Homo sapiens: one gene and its partners. The protein of the gene in region 2 purifies or fractionates together with the protein of the main gene of each other region. This does not show direct contact. Each region holds a gene or a part of one and is shown on either strand. Other genes may lie near its edges. The genes, in order: PAG1, ACBD7, ACOX1 and OGDHL.

Region 1 (7,044 bases), on a different chromosome or scaffold from region 2:
GAGAACCAGAGCTCGATCCTGGATGGCCTTGGCTTATAGTCTGAACACTAATAATGTCACTAGAGTCCCGAGCAGCAGAATGGCACAACCTAGCCTATGTTTTCAAAGGATCCCTCTGACTCCAGTTTTGAAATAAAGGGTAGAAGTGAGGAGAACAATTGGGTAGTGACTCTAATAAACCAGATTAGAAATGGCGGTGGCCTGGATCAGGGAAGAGGCAGCAGAGGTGATGAGAAAAGCTAAGCCAGAGCCAAGAGATTTGCGGATGGATCCTACGCTTAGTGAGATAAAGAAGAGGCAGTGATGAGTACGAGGCTGGGCCCAACATGTGGGAAAGATTGAATTGCCATTAACTGAAATGAAGAGGATACAGGCAGAGCAGGTTTTGGGGGGAGAACCAGCAGTCAGTGTTGGGTACGTTCAACTTGAGATACCGATTGGACTTCCAAGTAGAGCTTATCAGATGGTAGCTGGATTGATGAGCCGGGTAAAGAGGAAAGGCCAGGGCTGGATTTGCTGATGTGGGAGTCATCCACAGAATGTGGTTTTAAAAGTCATGAGATTGGGTGAGGTCACAGGATAGGTGAGTGTAAATAGAGCCTGGAAGAGCTCCAAGAATAGAGATCTGGAAAAGGAACCAGCAGAAGAGACCAAAGTAGGAAACAAAAACAGGAAAGTTGTGGAGTCCTGGAAGGCAGTGAAGAACGTGTCCAGGAAGGAAGGAGTGGCGGGCCGCTCTGCCAAATGCAGCGGGTAGGTCAGGGAAGGCGAGTCTCATTGGTGCCCTTGACAAGAGCAGTCTCTGTGGAATGGTAGAGGCAGAAACATGACTGAAATGGATTAGAAAGAGAATAGGAAGAGAAAAATTGTTCGGTTGACTTTTTAGACCACTCTTTAAAAGATTTTGCTATAAAGAAGTGAGACAGGCTGGGCGCAGTGACTCATGCCTGTAATCGTAACACTTTGGGAGGCCGAGGTGGGTGGATCACTTGAAACCAGGTGTTTGAAACCAGCCTGGGCAATGTAGCAGCACCCCGTCTCTACAAAAAATACAAAAATTAACTGGGCATGGTGGTATGCACCTGTAGTCCCAGCTACTTGGGAGGCTGAGGTGGGACAATGGCTTGAGCCTGGGAGGTCAAGGCTGCAGTGAGCCAAGATCACGCCACTGCATCCCAGCCTGAATGGCAGAGTGAGACGCTGTCAAAAAAAAAAAAAAAAAAAAAAAGGAAGTGAGATAATGAGTAGGTAGAATTTCGGAGTAGGACTAGGTTTGTTTTGGTTTTAGAATGAGAGAAACAACAGCATGTTTGCATGTGGCTGGGAATGATCCCACACTGGGAGAATTCCTGGCTCAGTATTCACACATAGGTATGTGGAGACAGGGTCTAGTGTGTAGGAAGGAGGGGATCACCTGAAGGAGGAACATGGAAAATCCATTTGACAGGGAGGAAAGAAAATAGATTAACGCAGAGGCTGAGGGTGGGGCTAAGAGTTGATACAAATTTCTTCTGATTCCTTCAGTTTTCTTAGCCAACTAGGAAGCAAGATCATCTGCTCAGAGTGAAGATAGGTGAGGAGGTGTTGGAAGTCTGGGGAGAAGAGGAGAAGATGCAAAGTAGACTGTGAGTTGAGCAGAGACTGAGTATACTGGGGAAGCATCGGATGATACGGAGCGGCTTTAAGGGCTCACTAGAGGGTTGAGTTCACGTATGATTGGCAGTTGACTATGGAGCTTAAGCTTAGTAAAGCAGTACAGGACACCAAGGAGAAGGGCAGACTTTGAAAGCATGAATGGGTCCCAATGGTGTTGAAGGAGCATTGGAACTGGGTTACAGAAGGAGTGAGCTTTGACAACGAGCGCTGGTCTGAAAGGGGTTGCAAGGACTTGGGCTGGTGGAGAGGCTGTGGTTTAGAAAGGCCTGGGGTGCAGCCATGAGGGTGCTGAGGCCGGGGGTGGACATGGAGAGGGGACACAGATAGAGCATAAAATCAGTGGGGGAAGGGAAAGTCAAGGAACTGAAGGGCGGGATTTAGAAGGGTACACGTTTGTTGAGGTCACCAAAAATTAAGACAAGGGATGTGTTAGAGAATCAGTAAACCAAGAGCCAAAATCCTTCAGAAATCAGGCAGGGGGCAAGACACAAAATGTGAGTCAGTTTCTCCATTAGCTTTGAAGTTTCCAAATGACTTAAGGATCTTTCTGATGACGCCAGCAAACTGTAGAAGTATAAAATTCAGGCATTTGATAAAGAAACACCATGTTTTTAAATATTAATCCTCCATGGATGATCAATCCTTCAGTGACAATTAGGAATTGAAACAGTAGTCTAAATAATTATTTTGGCTTCTTTGTACCTACAGATGCAAATACAAAATTAGAGGAAATTTCTCTAAGGATAATACTACTAGATATCCCCGAACATCATACATGTGGTAATAGATTGCATAAGTGTTTCTCTTCCCATAATTTCTTCGTGGTTCCATAAAAATCATTTGAAAACGTTGCTAGACAGATTATGAGGAAACATGTGCAAAAGAAAGGTTAGATTGTTAACGCTGAATTACTTTCCTTGGCTTGTGTTTGTTCTGACAGAGATTTAGCTCATTGTCATACAAGTCTCGGGAAGAAGACCCCACTCTCACAGAAGAAGAGGTAAGTTTTGTTTCTTTTTAAAAAGGGAAAACTGTAGTAAAGAATAGACCTTCCCCCCTTGAATAAATGCACTGTAATGTTACCCTTTGAAAGAGCTGAAATATTCTCCTATGCCTATGTTTGGAGATGAAGACTTGGGATGCTGGTTTTATAATGGCTTGGAGAGACTGACGGGCAGGCCAGACAAGAAGGATGGCAGGACAAGTAGTCAGCTCAGGAAAAGAAACTGAGCAGGAAAGCAGGGTCAGGAAAAATAGAGAGGGCAGGGGAGAAGAGTGAGAAGAGAAAAATTCCAGCGTGGGAGCAGTCAGCAGTCAGGAAGACCACATCAGAAGGAAATGAATCATGGGTTGGAAAATTCAGGAAATTAGAACAGGTGAGTGTAGGGAATTTGCTCCAGCCTGGGAGACAGAAAGAGGAAGTCTCCGTGGGGAAATTTGGATGCTGAGAGCAGATTAACTTCAGTAAGTACAGTTCCAGGCAGGAGCTAGGGTCAGACATAGCAGCCAACAAGAGCAGATCGCATATTCCCAAGCACCAGGGTGCAAAATTCACGAGTTAGATTTTCAATGAAGCATTAAAATTGTTAAAGCCAGTATTATACATATAATATGAAATATGTGTATATATACATATTTCATATGTATATATATAAATGTTGAGCTATGCTCAGAGAGCTAAACACCTTAATTGATCTAGCTGTATATAGCTTCTATCTGGAATTCCTAGCAGAGTAAATTGTGTACATGTACAAGAGCAAAGTACATATGCAGGTACATCACTTCCTATAGGACTCTGAGTAAAGCATTAGAATATGGACATAGACACCCACGTTGAATGTTCAAAGAGCAAAAATGCTTTCCCTAGGTGATATTGCCCACCCTCGTCCATGTTTCTACCTCCAGAATGGACCTGCCATCTGTCTATCTGGTTGCACAGACCAAAACCTAGGGGTCATCTCGATACTTCCTTTTCCTCACTGTCCTCCAACACAGTCAATTGCCAAGACCCATCAGTTGCACCTCCAAACTGTTTTCTTTGTGTACCCACCTCCCTCAAGCCCACTGCGGCCGCCCCTCCCTAGGCCAGAGCAGTCCCCTCCTGCTGATCCCTGGCAGCTCCTTGGCCTCCCTCCACTCTGTTTTCTACTCTGCAGCCAAAGTGATCCCATCTGGGACAAGAAGGTAAAATATATAGGAGTTCTGGGAATTAAAGACTATGTAAAATTTTAAATTGCTCCTTATCTTACATTTGTTTGTATTTTTTGAAACAGGACCTAGTTATACTGATGAATTTTTAACATGACAGAACTATGACTCACAGACATTCATTTTAGGACAAAGAGGAAAAATAAATATGAAAGTTTTTTTTGTATTTATGTAATTTAATGTTAAACAGTCCAGACTGAAGCTGAGATCTGAGCTTTAAGTTCTATTACCCCAATTTAACAGAATGTTATGGAAAGGATTGATTAGAAAAAGAAGAGAAATGGGGAAAAGGAAGAGAGTAACTTATGGGAATATAGCAACAATTTACAGACTGAGGAATAATGATGAAAGTTTTAAAGAGAAAAATTGAGAAGCTAAATAGCAAGGGGGCTGGAAGAGAAACCTGTATACAAAATAAAAATAATAGTCATAATGGTCATAGAAAACAGTCAAAAGGAATATGAGAAGACTCAAGAAGCTTTTATAAAAGTTGAAATGTACAGTGAGACCCTCTGCACACTAGGTTCATTCCCAGAGTCAATATTAAATTGCAAGTTAATGAATGAGGACAAAGGCCAAGAAGACCAAGTACTCTTACAAAGAGTGAGGGGCATTAATTACAAAGACCAGGGGGAAGAAAGCTGAGGAGAGAAGCTAACGGTGGTGAGGGGCTGACTCTCATTGTTACAATCTAGGTCAAGGTACATTTGTCCTCCTTGATGTTACCAGGTGATGAATACGCTGGTATGCCGTCTCCCCTCACCATTGTCATCCATTGTTTACCTTTTTATAATCTGTCCACATATAATTTTTGGCTTGGACCACCATTTAGATAATACATTCTGTGTTTGCACTTCCTTATAAACAGCAGTGAATTTTTTTTATTAAATTCAAAGAAATTATAATTCTTGTATTCTGAGAGCAGTTTTTTCATTAAAACCTCTAAGGTGAGAATGTTAATCATTTCATATTCATTAGGATAGTCAGATCAACATAGTAAGAGTTTTCCAAAGACTGTTTTTCTGAACTGTAAACCCTTGGATTGTCAAGGCCTCACCAAACTGAGCCAGCCACCAGCCTGTAATGAAAAGTTCTCATGCAAATGACCAGTTAGCATGTGGCAGGCCTGTCTTAAGAAGCTTTTGAGACATAAGAAGGCCTGTCTTAAGACAGGCCTGTCTTAAGAAGCTGGAAACTTCACCTGCAGTATGTGAGAAAAGTGGAAGCAGGAAAATGTCCCTCAGCCCTTGGGAAGCCAGGCATCTGTGAGGAAGCATGTTCATGTATTTCCTGGGTATTTGAATGAATCAAATCACTGTGATAAAAATAAACACAGGTAATGAAGGGTATTTTTACTTATTTCCAACCGTGATTTTTCACAATAAAATAATACTCCCCAAAAGTCTCCTAATTAGTATATTTAATCTTCACAATGAATGAAATCCCTGTTGATATCGGAGGTGATACAGGATTTATTAGTGAGACTGTGGGGGTGTGCTTGGAAAGCCACTGGCTCTTAATAGTATCCTGTAAGTTGTCATTTCTGACTTGGCTGGTTGCAAGCGAGAATGAGTTTTCCCACTGAAGAAAACTAGACCTGGACTGTCAATGTCTGTTTAACCAGTAATACGCAACTAAGTCAAGAAATAATGGACAGGAATACCCTTTCAGATATATGTGTACCACCAACGAGAATCCAGCAACGGGTGTTGGAGACCACTGTGATGCAGGAAGCATGGAGTAGTCTAATTCAGAGTTCTTATACTTTACTGGCCATCAGAATCAGCACCGGTTGCTGGGCCCCAGCCCCGAGGTTCTGATTTGGTGGTTCTGGGATGAGGCCTGAGAACTTGCCTTTCTGACAAATTCCCAGATCCTGTTGCTGCTGGTTTACAGCCCACACTTTGAGAATCACCGGTCTACTATGTGTTTTCTGTCCTTTTTTGTAAAGCAGTGGAGCCCCTTTTCAGGCAAAATATCATTCTGATAAAGAAATGAAATAAAACACATGCTGTGGTCAGGTCCCCGGGGCCTTCAGGAGCTTCCCACTCCACCTCTCCTCAAATTCCTCGGCAGACCCAAGAGAACTGGGTTTTCACGGAATTAAGGGAATATGACTGATCTAGTTAACATAGTTGAAGATAGTGTGTGTAATTATTCTCTAGTAATGTGCTCCATAATTAGTACAGATAAGAAAGAACAAATCTTTAAGGAGTACACACACAGAAACCCAGGAGTGCTCAGTATGTAGCTTGTCACTAAAAAGAGGGAGGGGGAAGTCACAGCTGGAAGTTTATTCAACTCTCCCTTTGTCTCCTAGATCTCAGCTATGTACTCATCAGTAAATAAACCTGGACAGTTAGTGAATAAATCGGGGCAGTCGCTTACAGTTCCGGAGTCCACCTACACCTCCATTCAAGGGGACCCACAGAGGTCACCCTCCTCCTGTAATGATCTCTATGCTACTGTTAAAGACTTCGAAAAAACTCCAAACAGCACACTTCCACCAGCAGGGAGGCCCAGCGAGGAGCCAGAGCCTGATTATGAAGCGATACAGACTCTCAACAGAGAGGAAGAAAAGGCCACCCTGGGGACCAATGGCCACCACGGTCTCGTCCCAAAGGAGAACGACTACGAGAGCATAAGTGACTTGCAGCAAGGCAGAGATATTACCAGGCTCTAGCAACCCAGAAGACAACCCTGGGTAGCCTGTGATCAGTGTCTGGAGACGTTTCTTCTGTGGAAGAGAAGAAGTGACACAAACCTATACTTCATATGCTGCTTTAGTCACCTGAAGATGGTTGGAGAGGCCCTGTCGACTGTTCTCCCAGTTGTTCAGTTTCTGAGACAGAGAGGTACGGACTAGGCTGCACCTGAGTGTGCCCCTGCCTGCCAGATGGACAGGTACACCCAAGCACATCTCCCTGCTGCACCCTCACCACCCACAAAAGATCCCAGCTGTCAGTGGTCTCATCTCATTAGTGAGGAAAGCCAAGCTGTATGGAAAAGCTGCACTCACCAAGGACCACAATGCCCCCGGCCTAAAGTACTGCCATTCAGAAAAGCAGGTTTTTCTTCCTCTCTTTCCTTTTCTCTGTCTGCTACTGACTTTAAGGCTTTTTCCCCCTTGAAATGTCCAGATTCCTGTGGTTCATCCCAAGGAAATTTTCACACAAAGCT
Region 2 (3,846 bases):
CGCCTGTAATCCCAGCTACTAGGGAAGCTGAGGCAAGAGAATCACTTGAACCCGGGAGGTGGAGGTTGCAGTGAGCCAAGACCATGCCACTGCACTCCAGTCTTGGCGACAGAATGAGACTCTGTCTCAAAAATAATAATAATAATTAGGATTCGTGATTATTAATTTGAAAAATGTTTAGTCAGTATAGTCTGCAAACTGAAGTTTCATGATGGAACAAATGCCAGGCTTTGGGGGTAAGCTTTTTCCCCTGCATCTCTACCTGGTGGAGGTAAAGTCCACATGGGAACAACTTTCAGGAGTTTTCAAGCCCTCAACTGTAAGACACCAAGTCTATCATTGATGATGTCTTCTCTTTGAAGGAATTAGGCCTTGGTATCATCGTGGAAGACGTCTATCATTAGGCGAAATTTAGAAAGATGAGAATTATCTTGATTGCCAAAATTTTCCCGATGAGAAATCAACCTCGATTTTTAAAAGTAAACTTTTTGAGGTAACTGCAGATTCCCTTTTATTTGTAAGAAATAATACAGAGAGATTTGTGTAGCCTTTTACCCAATTTCCTTTAATGGTAACTGTTATGCAAAACTATAGTATAATATCACAATCAGCATATTGGTGTTGCTACAATCAAGACAGAACATTCCATCACTGCAGGATCATCCCTCCTGCTGCCCTTTTAAAGCCACACCCACCTCCCTCCTCCCTGGCAACCACTATTCCATCCTTTGCGTCTATAAATGTTCCCTTTCAAGAATCCTGGCTGGACGCGGTGGCTCATGCCTATAGTCTCAGCACTTTGGGGGGCCAAGGTGGGTAGATCACCTCAGATCAGGAGTTCCAGACCAGCCTGGGCAACATGGTGAAACCCTGTCTCTATGAAAAATACAAAAATTAGCTGGGCATGGTTGCACGCACCTGTAGTCCCAGCTACTCTGGAGGCTGAGATGGGAGGATTGCTTGACCCTGGGAGGCAGAGGTTGCAGTGAGCCGAGAGCGTGCCACTGCGCTCCAGCCTGGGTAACAGAGTGACAGCCTGTCTCAACAAAAAAAAAAAAAAAAAAAAAGAAAAGAAAAAGAATGTTATATAAATGGAATTATACATGTCACATTTGGGGACTGGCTTTTTCTGCTCAGCATAATTCCCTGGAAATTCATCTAGCAGACCTAGATAGTTTTGTTGTTGTAGTAACATGAAGTGGATCTATTCCTCTGGTCATACCATTCCAAATCTAAATTTTTATGCAGGGAATAGAGGTACACTGTTTTGGGGGATATTTATCTTAAGGGATCTCAAACAATTTTTTGAATTGTTAACATGAGACTGTCTTCTTTCAAAGAGCCTGTGTACCATCCAGAAAGACTGAGTAGGGGGCCAATATTATATTCCAGACTCTATTTTTACTCAGATAGAACTGAACATATGGGGTACAGTAGTGGTACAGTTTATCACTAGATACATTTTAGTTTGCCTTTTTGTCTTAAATGTCTTAAATGTAAAAATTTAAAGAAAAATAGATATTCCTATGGGGGCTTTTTAAATTTCTTTAAACTGCTATGGACAGACTTGTAATTTTTTTTTTTTTTTTTGAGACGGAGTCTTGTTTTGTCGCCCAGGCTGGAGTGCAGTGGTGTGATCTTGGCTCACTGCAACCTCCATCTCCTGGGTAAAAGCAATTCTCCTGCCTCAGCCTCCCAAGTAGCTGGAATTACAGGTGTGCACCACCAATGGCTGGCTAATTTTTGTATTTTTAGTAGAGATGGGGTTTTGCAATGTTGGTCAGGCTGGTCTCGAACTTCTGACCTCAGTAATCCACCTACCTCGGCCTCCCAAAGTGCTGAGATTAGAGGCGTGAGCCACCACGCTCAGCCTTGCCATTGATTCTTAATAACCTGTTTTTATTTCACCAGTAACATTAACTTATTGTAACAGAACAGATGAGCCAAAAGAACAAACAGCTGTTCAAATCTGTACACATATTACCAGGGCTAGACTTTCTAAAAAGTCAAAAAACAACAGATGTGGAGAAAAGGGAATGCTTATACACTATTGGTGGGAATGTAAATTAGTACAACCTCTATGAAAAACAGCACGGAAATTTCTCATGGAACTAAAAATAGAACTACCATTCTACCCAGCAATCCCACTACTGGGTATCTTCTTAAAGGAAAATAAATCATTCTATCCAAAAGATACCTGCACTTGTATATCTATTGCAGCACAATTCACAAGAGCAAAGATATGGAATCAACCTAAGTATCCATCAGCAGATGATGGGATAAAGAAAACGTTGTATATGTATACCAGGGGATATTACTCAGCCATATAAAGAGAATGAAATTACGGCTTTTGCAGCAACGTGGGTGGAACTGGAGGCTATTATCTTAAGTGAAACAACTCAGAAAAAAATAAGAAAATAAAGATTTTTAAAGAACCCTCAGAAACAAAAAAAAATACCACATGTTTTCACTTATAAGTGGGAGTTAAACAGGGTGTATACAGGGTCATGGAGTGTGGAATAATAGACACTGGAGGCTTGGAAAGGTGGGAGGGGGTGAGGGATGAGCAATTACCTTTTGGGTACAATGTACAGTATTTTGGTGATGGTTACACTAAAAGCCCAGATTTCCCCACTACACAATATATCCATGTAACAAAACTGCACCTGTGACCAGGTGTGGTGGCTCACACCTGCAACCCCAGCGCCAAGGTGGGCAGATCACCTGAGGTCAGGAGTTCGAGACCAGCCTGGCCAACATGGCAAAACCCCGTCTCTACTAAAAATACAAAAATTAGCCAGCCATGGTGGCAAGCACCTGTAATCCCAGCTACTCGGGAGGCTGAGGCAAGAGAATCACTTGAACCCAGGAGGCGGAGGTTGCAGTGAACCGAGATCACACGACTGCACTCCAGCCTGGGTGACAGAGTGAGACTCCTCAAGAAAAAACAAACAAACAAACAAAAACTGCAACTGTACTCCCTAACTCTATAAAAATAAAAAATACTTTTCTAAAAGAATTTTTTTTTTTATACTTTAAGTTCTGGGATACATATGCAGAACGTGCAGTTTTGTTACATAGGTATACATGTGCCATGGTGGTTTGCTGTACCCATCAACCGGTCACCTACATCAGGTATGTCTCCTAATGTTATCCCTCCCCTAACCCCCTAGTCCCCGACAGGCCCCAGTGTGTGATGTTCCCTTCCCTGTGTCCATGTGTTCTCATTGTTCAACTCCCACTTATGAGTGAGAACATGCTTGGTTTTCTGATCTTGTGATAGTTTGCTGAGAATGATGGTTTCCAGCTTCATCCATGTCCCTGCAAAGGACATGAACTCATCCCTTTTTATGGCTCCATAGTATTCCATGGTGTATATGTGCCACATTTTCTTAAAAAGAACTTTTAAAGACACCTGGTTTAAGCAAGTACAATTGAGTTAACTATGTAGTTTCAGTATACTTCTAAGTACTACAGCTCATGCTAATAGCAAAAATATACATGATACATCAAGTTAACAGTATGCCTCTCCCTCTAAATGTTAGGTCATGATAGCATTTGGAAGTCTTCAAAAGGAAAAATTCCTCATATGCTGTATTCTAAATTCCGTATTTTTCTATCAGCTCCTTTGCTTTAGAAATATAGGCACTCGTCGCATCTTCCGTCGACAACCCTAGAAAGATACAAACAGGTTATCTCCCTGATTGGTGCACTGGGAAATTAAGAAAGTTTGCTTTAAACTTGTGAAAGACTAAAAAACCTTTTTTGAGGTTCCATGCTTCCCATTTGGCTTTGCCTTTTAAATCTAGCATTCCTGGACACGCTGGCAAAAGAAGGAGACATGCA
Region 3 (7,044 bases), on a different chromosome or scaffold from region 2:
GCCACTGCGCCCAGCCTCCTTTTTTTTTTTGAGACAAGGTCTCACTGTCATCTAGGCTGGAGTACGGTGGCATAATCACAGCTCACTGTAGCCTCGGCCTCCCAGGCTCAAGTGATCCTCCCACCCCAGTCTCCCAAGTAGCTGGGACTACACACGTGTGCCACCATACCCAGCTAGATTTTTTTACTTTTTGTAGAGATGGGTTCTCACTATGTTGCCCAGACTGATCTTGAGCTCCTGGGCTCAAGTCATCCACGCACTCAGCCTCCCAAAGTGCTGGGATAACAGGAATATGCCAGTGTGCCCTGCTGTTATTACCTTCTAAAAGAACAGACCATTCTAACCCTATTGTGAGTAACAGCCACTCAACTCCACTGTTTGATGCCTCTGCTTTATTTTCTATCAAAACATACCTGGGCATACTTCATCAGCATGTTTTCTCTGGGAATACGATGGTTGTCCATTTTGAGGTAGCCATTGTCTATCTCATCATAACCAAATTTGGGGCCGATGTCACCAACGGTAATTCCTACCACAGATGAAAGGACAGTCACGAGATGTTTATGCTCTGGAATTTCTGGCTTTTGCTCCGCCTCTTCAGTTGGGCATTCTACCTTTTGCAGAAGAAAGTGCTCAGTTTCATTTTCATCTCAACATCAGATGAACAGTTCTTACCTGGCAAAGGCTTATGGGTCCCGATTTCACGAATAGGTACGATAAAGGCATGTAATCCATAGCATTTCCCCTTAGTGATGAGCTGGGCAAGAACTATTGCATGATTTGAAGTCTTTCCAACTGTAATATCAAAGAGAACAAGGGAGGGGTGGGCAAACGTTCATACATTTTTAAAGGGTAGAAAAAAGAAGAAAGAATATGTTAAATCTAACACTAGACTAAACCAATAGTATGTGTCCAGAAAGCCTTTCTGCTGACAGCATCACACCTAGCTTTCAGAAAGAAATTCCCTTAAGCTAATAGTTATTACTTTCTTTTCTACTTATTTCTCATACATTTACGTAGAGAAAATTTTAGGATAAAAATAAGAATATTAATTTAAACTACTTCCTTGTTATCCCTTAAGGCAGTGCTGTCCAAAACAGTAATCACTAGCTACATGTGGCTTCTTACATATAAATTATAAATAAATAAAATATATAATGTGAATAACAAAATCCTTCAACCACTAACTGTATTGGAAATATATATTCCAAGATAATAACTCAGAATGGAATAAGAAGATATAAAAGTTTCGGGTCAGCCGGGCACGGTGGCTCGCGCCTGTAATTCCAGCACTTTGGGAGGCCGAGGCGGGCAGACCAGAGGTCAGGAGTTTGAGACCAGCCTGGCCAACATGATGAAATCCCATCTCTACTAAAAATACAAAAATTAGTTGGGTGTGGTGGCACGCTCCTGTAGTCCCAGCTACTCAGGAGGCTGAGGCAGGAGAATCGCTTGAACCCAGAAGGTGGAGGTTGCAGTGAGCGGAGATCACACCACTGTACTCCAACCTGGGTGACACAGTGAGACTCCATCTCAAAAAAAAAAAAAAGTTTGTGTTAAAACTATTTAAATTTTTTTCTTTTTTTTTTTTAAGAGACAGGGTTTCACTCTGTCACCCAGGCTGGAGTGCAGTGGCATGATCACAGATAGTAGCTCACTGCAGGCTTGAACTCTTGGGCTCAAGTGGTCCTCCCACCTCAGCCTCCTGAGTAGCCAGGACTATAGGTCTATAGGTATGTGCCGCTATGCCTGGCTTTCCTCTCTCTCTCTCTCTCTCTCTCTCTCTCTCTCTCTCTCTCTCTCTCTCTCTCTCTCTCTCTATATATATATATATATATATATATATATATATATATACACACACACACCTCTCTCTGTCTATATACACACACACACACCCCTCTATGTACACACACCACACACACATATATTTGTTTGTTGGGTTGTTTTTGAGACAAAGTCTTGCTGTGATGCCCAGGCTGGAGTGCAATGGTGCAATCTTGGCTCATTGCAACCTTCCCGGGTTCAAGTGATTCTCCTGCCTCAGCCTCCCAAGTAGCTGGGACTACAGGTGTGCGCCACCACACCCGGCTAATTTTTGTATTTTTAGTAGAGATGGGGTTTCAGCATATTAACCAGGCTGGTCTTGAATTCCTGACCTCAAGTGATCTGCCCACCTCAGCCTCCCAAAGTGTTAGGATTTCACCACCAAGTCTGGCCGACATTATCATAAAAGCTCTACATTCTAAGCAAAATCTCATGACAAACCTTCAAAACATCCAATAAATGCTGAAAAATTCACTTACGCCCACCAGGCCACCATTTAATGGAGGTCACAGTAGGACTGTTGAGAATGAACTCCTGGGTTTCAGGGTCATACGTGGCTGTGGTTTCCAAGCCTCGAAGGTGAGTTCCTAAGGAGATAAATTACATTGACTTCAGTTAAGAGATGGGGAAAAAAATAGGCACAAGGAAAAATTTCCTGCACAGTCCTTTAAACTCTCATATCTCAGAGAAAAACAAAATCTAACAAAAAACACCTGTAGATGAGCTACAACTGGTTGATAACCAAGACACTGAATTTCCCACACTATCTGATGGTTTCCTATTAAGTTGAAAATCTAAGTGTCATGCATGTTCCATTTCTGTATTTGATTTGTTACATTTATTTACAGCAACTGAAAGAAAATATAAAGGCAACTTAGAATCACATTTTTAAGATCACAATATATGAATTTAACAGGGATGTTAACTGTCTTTTTAAACCCATCTCTGAGTTGCAAGTATGCCAATTTCAAGTCATATGTATTGTGTTAACCACACCAATTCAACATTCTTGAATTCTGTACTAATGAGAAGAATGAGATAACATGTGAGAGGAAGACATTTCAGCCAAAATTCGTATAAATTAAAAATGTATGGCTGTGCGTGGTGGCTCATGCCTGTAATCCCAGCACTTTAGGAGGCCGAGGCGGGTGGATCACGAGGTCAGGAGATCGAGTCCATCCTGGCTAACATGGTGAAACCCGTCTCTACTAAAAATACAAAAAATTAGCCAGGCATTGTGGCATGCGCCTGTAGTCCCAGCTACTAAGGAGGCTGAGGCAGGAGAATTGCTTGAACCCGGGAGGTGGAGGTTGCAGTGAGCCAAGATTGTGCCACCGCACTCCAGCCTGGGTGGCAGAGCAAGACTCCATCTCAAAAAAAAAAAAAAAAGAAAAAGAAAAAGAAAAAGGCCAGGCACAGTGGCTCAAGCCTGTAATCCCAGCACTTTGGGAGGCCGAGGTGGGGGGATCACGAGGTCAGGAGATTGAGACCATCCTGGCTAAAGTGGTGAAACCCCGTCTCTACTAAAAAAACAACAAAAAAATTAAAGCTGGGCACGGTGGCTCACGCCTGTAATCCCAGCACTTTGGGGGGCCAAGGCGGGCGGATCACAAAGTCAGGAGATCGAGACCATCCTGGTTAACACGGCGAAACCCCGTCTCTACTAAAAATACAAAAAATTAGCTGGGCATGGTGGTGGGTGCCTGTAGTCCCAGCTACTCGGGAGGCTGAGGCAGGAGAATGGCGTGAACCCGGAAGGTGGAGCTTGCAGTGAGCTGAGATCGCGCCACTGCACTCCAGCCTGGGCGACAGAGCACGACTCCGTCTCAAAAAAAAAAAAAAAAAAAGTATAAAAGTATAACTGTTATTGGGGAAATGACCTGAAATGTGACTTTTAAAAATTCCTAAAGGTCCAATAATAAGGTCTCAGTTGACCCTAGAGATTTCCAATGGCAGGCCTAACTTAGTCCTGCTGGTTCATTAATGTGGCAAGGAAGAGTTTCCAGTTTCTTATGTGTACTGGGATAGACAGGATCTTATGTTTTAAATCTTAACACAAATATATCAAAATTATTTGAAAAGAGTCATAGAAAAATGTTCTAGGTGGCAGTCTCTACAAAAATACTGTACTAAAGCAAACGTTGGGAACCTTTTACCAATCTGCTTTCATAACGCTTAGACCTCATTAAACACACTTTGAAACATTTAGAAGCTTCCAAGTTGAATAACCAACTTATGTGCAATCCACAACTTTCCCGAGTGGGAGTCAACAAATCAGACACAGACATCTTTCATCAAAGAAGCAGCTTTTACAGAAAAGCAGATAACATTAAACAGAACAGATAAGGACAAAATGTTTTCAAAAGCACAACTGAAACAAATAGTATTCCACTTGGAGTCTCATGAAAATCCTGTAAAATACTATTCAACACCAAATAAAAAGCAGCAGCTGTATAGAAATAAGGAGCAAGTGGCAAATACACACTAGACCAGTTTTTCTGAAACGTCAGAGCAGAAAAAGAGAAGCCATAAGCAAATGAATGGCAAACACGGACCCAATTCAGAGAAGATACAAAGAGGAACAGCGGCCACCTCCAGCCCACCCAGGTGCATGAAGAAAGCAGGTGGGGGGTGGAAAGATCAATGAAAGGTGGAGATACAGAGTCTGAAACCAAATGCCTGCAAGTTCGGCTTATCTTGGTTTTTTCACTCTCCAGCCAAGTCACTTGCAGAACTACTGATTGACTCAAAGTACAAATAACTCCAAAATGTCACACACGTCAGTTATAAGCTACTCATTTCCCTCAAGCAAATCCAAGAGTACACAAACTATTATTTGTATTTCTTCTGGAATTTGTACTCATTAAGGTATCAGTAGTAAAGGTAATCAGATAGTAATGAAGAAAAAAACAGCTTCGGGTTGTATATGCACACAGATTCTATACAACCTCAGTAACATTGAAAAACCACTTGGTAAATAAGGCCTGATTTGCAATTCTTGACCCTCTGAAGGGGAACTATGGTATAAAAAGGACAATCATTTTATCAGTATCATGGTCTTTAATTCCCACTCACCAAAGCAGTGTTTATACCAAAACCTGGACTCTGCAGAAAGAGCTCATTTAAACAGACCATAGAACATCGACACACCATCGATGGCACATGGTGGGCACTCCACACATGGTAAGCTCACAGGGGCCCGCCCAACCCAGAAGGTAGACTGAATACTCCATACCATGACCCATCTCTGTCTGGGCATAAGTGCCAATGATCTCCAAGTTCCAGGCGGGCATGAAGAAGCGCTCCTGCTGCTCCGCAGTTGCCTGGTGAAGCAAGGTGGGCAGGAACATGCCCAAGTGAAGATCCAGAGGCTCAGGCCGCCCTCGGTGCACAAAACTTCGAGGAAATATCAAGGATGGGCATTTGAGAGAAGAGTCATCAGGTGTGAGAGAATCAGCAATTTAAATAGAGCAAGGGAAGGAGACAAAAAAACCTTAAGTATGAATTAGTTGCGTGCACTTAATCATAGATGGGAGCACTGTCCCTTTCTGTATTACTTTATAGCTCTTGTTAATTTCCATTTTTCCTGAGTCGGCAAGGAGTACGAGGACAGGGATTGGTTACTGATTCCAAAGCCAATGCAGCACAAAACCACACGTGCAAGGCAGAGGATCCTCGCCCAGGAATTAAATCAAAGGAAATAAAGAAAATTTGAGAGGCCAGTGCAGTGGATCATGCCTACAATCTCAGCACTTTGGGAGGCCAAGGCGGTCAGATCACCTTAAGTCAGGAGTTCGAGACCAGCCTGGCCAACATGGCAAAGCCCTGACTCTACTAAAAATACAAAAATCAGCTGAACGTGGTGGCGCCAGCCAGTAGTCCCAGCTATTTGGGAGCCTGAGGCAGGAAAATCGCTTGAACCTAGGAGGCGGAGGTTGCAGTGAGCCGAGATCATGCCCACTGCATTCCAGCCTGGGTGACAGAGTGAGACTCTGTCTCAAAAAAAATAAATAAATAAATAAGAGAGAATTGGCCAGGTGCAGTGGCTCCCACCTATAATCTCAGCACTCTGAGAGGCCGAGGTGGGTGGATCACCTGAGGTCAGGAGTTCAAGACCAGCCTGGCCAACATGGCGAAACCCTGTCTCTACTAAAAATACAAAAATTAAGCAGGCATGGTGGTGCACACCTGTAATCCCAGCTACTCAGGAGGCTGAGGCAGGAGAATTGCTCCAACCCAGGAGGCAGAGGTTGCAGTGAGCTAAGATAACACCACTGCATTCTAGCCTGGGCGACACAGTGAGACTCCATCTCAAAAAAAAAAAAAAAAAGAGAGAGAGAATTTGAAAAGTTGTATAGGGCCAGGCATGGTGGCTCATGCCTGTAATCCTAGCACTTTGGGAGGCTGACGCAGGCGGATCACTTGAGGTCAGGAGTTTGAGACCAGCCTGGCCAACATAGTGAAATCCCGTTTCTACTAAAAATACAAAAAAAAAAAAAAAAAAAAAAGGCCGGGCACCGTGGCTCATGCCTGTAATCCCAGCACTTTGAGAGGCCAAGGTGGGCGGATCACCTGAGGTCAGGAGTTCAAGACCAGCCTGACCAACATGGTGAGACCCCATCTCTACTAAATATACAAAATCAGCCAGGTGTGGTGGCACATGCCTGTAATCCAAGCTACTTGGGAGACTGAGGCAGGAGAACCTGGGAGGCGGTGGTTGCAGTGAGCCGAGATCACACCACTGCACTCCAGCCTGGGCAACAGAGCGAGACTCTGTCTCAAAAAAAAAAAAAAAAAAAAAAAGTTGTATAGAATGGAGAATTTGCTGGGTGTGGTGGCATGTGCCTGTAATCCCAGCTACTTGGGATGCTGAGGCAGAATCGCTTGAAGCCAGGAGTCGGAGAACAGAGAATTTGAGTGGTACTGGTACAAGGATTTCCTCTGATGAGAAAGCGAGACAGAACATAGTAGTTCTCTCAGAGTGACAGTATGACCCCCAGATTATAGTTTTTCCTCGATGCAATTTCAATAATGCTTCTAGGCTGGGATTTTTTTTCTGTTTTGTCCACAAAACATCCAGCGTAGAACCATATTCCTCACATAGCTCTGATCATTTCATTCAGATTCATCATGTCAAATATTCGGCCACGCTCTACTGAAACACTTTAATACAAAAACTGACAGTGCTCTTCATCCCAATAATTTATTTCAGAAATT
Region 4 (4,227 bases), about 35 Mb from region 2:
AGCAAAACATCCCTCCTCTGTGGCAGCTTCTCCAGTATCTCCACAGGGAAGCAAAACCCACAAAAGGCCAGAGTGGAGAAGCCAACAGACACTACCTGGTGCTCAAATGAAAATCTGGCGTAGTGGCTCACACCTGTCATCCCAGCACTTTGGGAGGCCAAGGCAGGCGGATCACTTGAGGTCAGGAGTTTGAGACCAGCCTGGCCAACATGGTGAAACCCCGTCTATTAATAATACAAAAAAATTAGCCGGGCATAGTGGCGCATGCCTGTAATCCCAGCTACTCAGGAGGCTGAGGCAAGAGAATCACTTGAATCTGGGAGGCGGAGGTTGCAGTGAGCCAAGATCGCACCACTCCACTCCAGCCTGGGTGACAAGAGCCAAACTCCGTCTCAAAAAAATATCCATGGAGGCAGATATTTTCTTCTCTCCATTTTTTTAACTTTCTCCCCATTCCCTACCTTCTCTCAACTGCCTATCCCTCCCCCAGTTTTACAACATGAAATGAAAACAGCAAATCTCTCTGAAGCATGTTTTTATTTCTCTGTGATTTGGTTTTCTACTTTGGTACACATGAGCTGTGGCTGCATTTCACACAGAAGCTGACACATCTCGCAGGAATGCCCCATAAAACAGAGCGCAAACAAATCACCCAGCAGGTTCGCTTCACCTGGCTGTTACTGCTGAACTCCCTACTTCTAAGAGCACAGAAGAGAACATCGCTTTGAATCTACAGATAAGCGAGGGTGGGGCGAGCAGCAGCCAGGGCTGCCGGGATGGGAGCGGCCACAGACACAGGCCCCCGGGTGTCTGTCTTGAGATACAGGTGGAGAAGCCGCCCAAGAAATTCCAGCAAGATGGGAGCAGCTGGGGGATGCTCCAGCACAGTAGCCTGCCTATAGGACTCCTCTGGCTCCCTCAGTCCTGGTAGATTCTGGCATGACACCAAGGCCAGCAGTGCTGGCTCTTGGCCCTGTCACTGTGTCTGTTTTATCCTGGGGCCCCACAGCCCCTCTCCTGGGCAGGAGCTCCGCCCCTCCCCTTTTCATCACCCCCTTGGTCCCCAGCAAACCCACAGCGAGACCTACACAGGTTTTGCCCAGCTCTAAAATGTCTTGCCCTCAAAGGCCTGGAGATTGAAGGCAGTATCCAGAAACTTCTTCAGTGACACCAGGTGAGTGTTCCTGTTTCCTGTGGCTGGTGCAGCCGCTGGGTCCCGGCCAACATACCTGGAGGAGGAGAGACAAGCTAAGGGGAAGGCGGGGCCTAGCCGCCCCCCAACCGCTGCCCTCACTCCGGGACTGCAGGGGGCACGCATCTGAGAACCGCTGACCTCGAAGCCATAGACCCTGCCTTTTGGCCCTGGCACCACTTCCAATGAGCTGCAAAGCCCGGATCAAACTCAGTCACCTAGCCACAGAAGAGTGGGGAGAAACTGTCCCTCCATGTCACTGCACTTGCCCATGAGGACAACAAATGAGGCAACAACTCAAAGACTTTGGGGACAAACATACTTTTGGCTTCTTGGAGTTTCTCAGGACCCTCTCCCATCTTCCCAGGAACACATGATGCCAGTATTGGGAACGCACCATGTGCCAGAGCTAATACATACATCAGATCTAATCTTATCACCGCCCTTTGTAGAGATGCAGGGACTAAGGCTCCAAGGACTACATAACCGGCCTAAGATCTAAGGCAGGAGTTTTGAGACATGTAGCAGGTTCCTTAATACAGTTCTGGCTGCAGAACAAACACAAAGCCAGTACTGATGATGCCCCATCATTGCTCATCACCAGAGAAGGGCAGGGCCAGTTCTGGGTAGCATGGCCTATGGGACAGATGGAGCCAGGACAGAGCCTCAGGGCCGAGGTGAGGGGCAATCAGCGGCCCCACCATGTACCATATGGGCCGTGCGCGCCTCAGGATGGTCATGAAGCGTGGGCTGATGTAGTCATAGTAGCCCATGTTCTTGTGCTCCTCCTGACACCAGGCCAGCTCCGCACCTGGGTACTTCTCTGCCTCCTGCTTGATCAGGTCGAAGGGGAATGGAGAGATCTGGGGAGGCAGAAACAAAGGAGCATAGCCAGAGGAGGGGCGGTATGTCCCCAGCACCCCCGGACAGGAGGCACAGGGCCTCACCGGCCTTCATCTGGCCTGCCTGGCACATTGGCCAGAGCCGGGGCCAGCGACGTGAGCTTGCCCATCACTTGACTGTACAAGGGGTTCAGGCACACCTGCTCCAGGCGCGTGATGGCCACTTTCTCCTCCAGGTCCTGGCTGCTCCGCTCCTTCACCAGGTCATAGTACACCTTTCCCGTGCAGAAGATGAGCCGCTGCACCTGCTCAGGGGCCCGTGCTGCGGCCCCATCTTCAGGAATCACCCGCTGGAAGCTGGTCCCTGAGGGACCAACAGGACATGGCAGAGGCGTTGGTACCCAGAGGGGCTGGGGCAGCTCAGGACCAGGCCTGCATCCCCAGGCTCTCCTTAGCCACTGACACTAACTGCAGGTTTGGACTTGTGGCTGCAGTGGACACCTCTTGAACTAAAAGATGGAGCAGGGGGCAGATGACACCCTGAGCTGTCATAGGGAGAGGGGTGGAGACACCCAAGGGTTGAGCCCTGGAAGCATCACGTTTAAGGTGACCGGAGGTGGGGGTACAATAAGAAGCGCCCTGAAGGAGACAGAGAAGGCAACATGATGGCATCATCCTTTGCCCCAACCTTGCTTCTGCCCAGCTGCGCCCACCTCCTGCAGAGCACTGCAGTCCCCCACCACTAAGCAGATGTCCCAGGAGGCTGCTGCATGCTCCTCCTCTTTCAGCCTGGCAGCTGAGCTTCACCTCCAAGCCCCAACCATTCTTCCTTCCTGAGCCCATGATCCTGACCCCAGGTCACGCACACTGCAAAACCTCTCAGGAAGCTACTGTAGTGTCCTCACATCCCTGCATCTCAGGTGAAGACTCTGGGGTAGAGAGGACAAATGGATCCCAGGCCCTCAAGAGAGAAGCCAGCACAGGGCAGGTAGCCCAGGTAGTCCAGTCCCGACATCAGAGCTCTAACAGCTGCCCACCTGCACAGAGGGGACATCCAAACACACATGGGAGAAAATCCAACCCCTGTCCATGCTGAGGCCCTTCCCAGCCCTCCCTCTACTGCCCAGGACCATTTTCCAAGACAGCTCTGCTCCACCAGCCTCACACCTGTCCTTCCCTGGACATAGTCACCTCTCAGTTGCAACTATAGTGTTTTATCTGATCTGACTCCCAGGGAAATAAGGCCAAAGACTCCTGGAGGGGACACCAGGACCCCAGGGCCTGTAATGTCTGTTTGGCTCATGAATTTTTAAAATGGACAAATGAATGAATGATACTCAATATCTTGCGAACTCAGCAGGCCTCTGCCAGGCCTCGACCAGCCCTGCTAGGGTCTAAGGGGGCCCCAGTGGACTCTACCATGGACGCAACCCACATGACCTGAGCTGGCCCAGGTCAGCCATTGTGCCAACCTCCCAACCCTACTGCTAGTGGGACCATGCCAGGAGCTGCTGCAGGTCAGCAGAGCCACAGGCAGAGGGGAGGTTGGAGAAGCCCCAGAAGCAGAAGCCACACAATGGGCCACCGCCCCATTGTGGGCTACCCCACACACCCAGGCCAGGCACGTACCGGATACCATTTGGTCAAAGCTGGACTTGGCCTCTGGGTGCCTCAGCAGAGATTTAGGTGTGAAGATAATCAGCTGGAAGGGAAATACACGCCCAGCTGCCAGCTGGCCCTGCCTGGCCAGGCCCCCTGCCTGTGACCCCTGCCCTGGGACGGAGACTCACCGGCTTGCGGAAGGGCAGCAGGATCTGCCGGCGCAGCACGTGGAAGTAGTTGGCCGGTGTGGAGCAGTTGACCACGATCCAGTTGCAGTCATAGAGCTGGCTCACCTCGAAGTCCTTGGTGAATGCCTGTGGGGACGAGATGCATATGGCCAGGGTGGCTGTCTGCTGCACCCACACCCTGGACCCCTAGCCCTGTGGGCACAATAGGGCGCGTCCCTGTCCTGGGGACAGCAGCAACACTCACAGGGTAGGCATCCGAGTCATCATTGCTCATCTGCAGGAACCTTTCGGGCCTCGCTGACGAGTGCTCTGGGCCCTGAAAGCAAACGCCAGACAGCCAAGGCTGGACCCCACCATGGGAAAGACATCTGGCCCTGCAGGGACCCCAGGCTCAGGGGAAAGT

The links.
Region 1: the proteins of ACBD7 (region 2) and PAG1 purify together in Homo sapiens (affinity purification with mass spectrometry; 2 studies listed by BioGRID and IntAct, with this or other methods). This does not show direct contact.
Region 3: the proteins of ACBD7 (region 2) and ACOX1 purify together in Homo sapiens (affinity purification with mass spectrometry; 2 studies listed by BioGRID and IntAct, with this or other methods). This does not show direct contact.
Region 4: the proteins of ACBD7 (region 2) and OGDHL purify together in Homo sapiens (affinity purification with mass spectrometry; 2 studies listed by BioGRID and IntAct, with this or other methods). This does not show direct contact.

Annotation. Positions count from the first base shown.
Region 1 is NC_000008.11:80,976,047-80,983,090, reverse strand, and holds part of PAG1 (phosphoprotein associated with glycosphingolipid-enriched microdomains 1), read left to right. Parts: intron 1-2,596; coding exon 2,597-2,656; intron 2,657-6,184; coding exon 6,185-6,547; 3' UTR 6,548-7,044. UniProt on the Homo sapiens protein: Negatively regulates TCR (T-cell antigen receptor)-mediated signaling in T-cells and FCER1 (high affinity immunoglobulin epsilon receptor)-mediated signaling in mast cells.
Region 2 is NC_000010.11:15,074,931-15,078,776, forward strand, and holds the end of ACBD7 (acyl-CoA-binding domain-containing protein 7), read right to left. Parts: intron 3,824-3,846; coding exon 3,761-3,823; intron 3,674-3,760; coding exon 3,600-3,673; 3' UTR 545-3,599; downstream 1-544. UniProt on the Homo sapiens protein: Binds medium- and long-chain acyl-CoA esters.
Region 3 is NC_000017.11:75,955,153-75,962,196, forward strand, and holds part of ACOX1 (peroxisomal acyl-coenzyme A oxidase 1), read right to left. Parts: intron 5,224-7,044; coding exon 5,063-5,223; intron 2,415-5,062; coding exon 2,307-2,414; intron 796-2,306; coding exon 676-795; intron 530-675; coding exon 414-529; intron 1-413. UniProt on the Homo sapiens protein: Involved in the initial and rate-limiting step of peroxisomal beta-oxidation of straight-chain saturated and unsaturated very-long-chain fatty acids.
Region 4 is NC_000010.11:49,734,123-49,738,349, forward strand, and holds the end of OGDHL (2-oxoglutarate dehydrogenase-like, mitochondrial), read right to left. Parts: intron 4,141-4,227; coding exon 4,069-4,140; intron 3,951-4,068; coding exon 3,825-3,950; intron 3,737-3,824; coding exon 3,664-3,736; intron 2,399-3,663; coding exon 2,235-2,398; intron 2,056-2,234; coding exon 1,901-2,055; intron 1,230-1,900; coding exon 1,106-1,229; 3' UTR 519-1,105; downstream 1-518.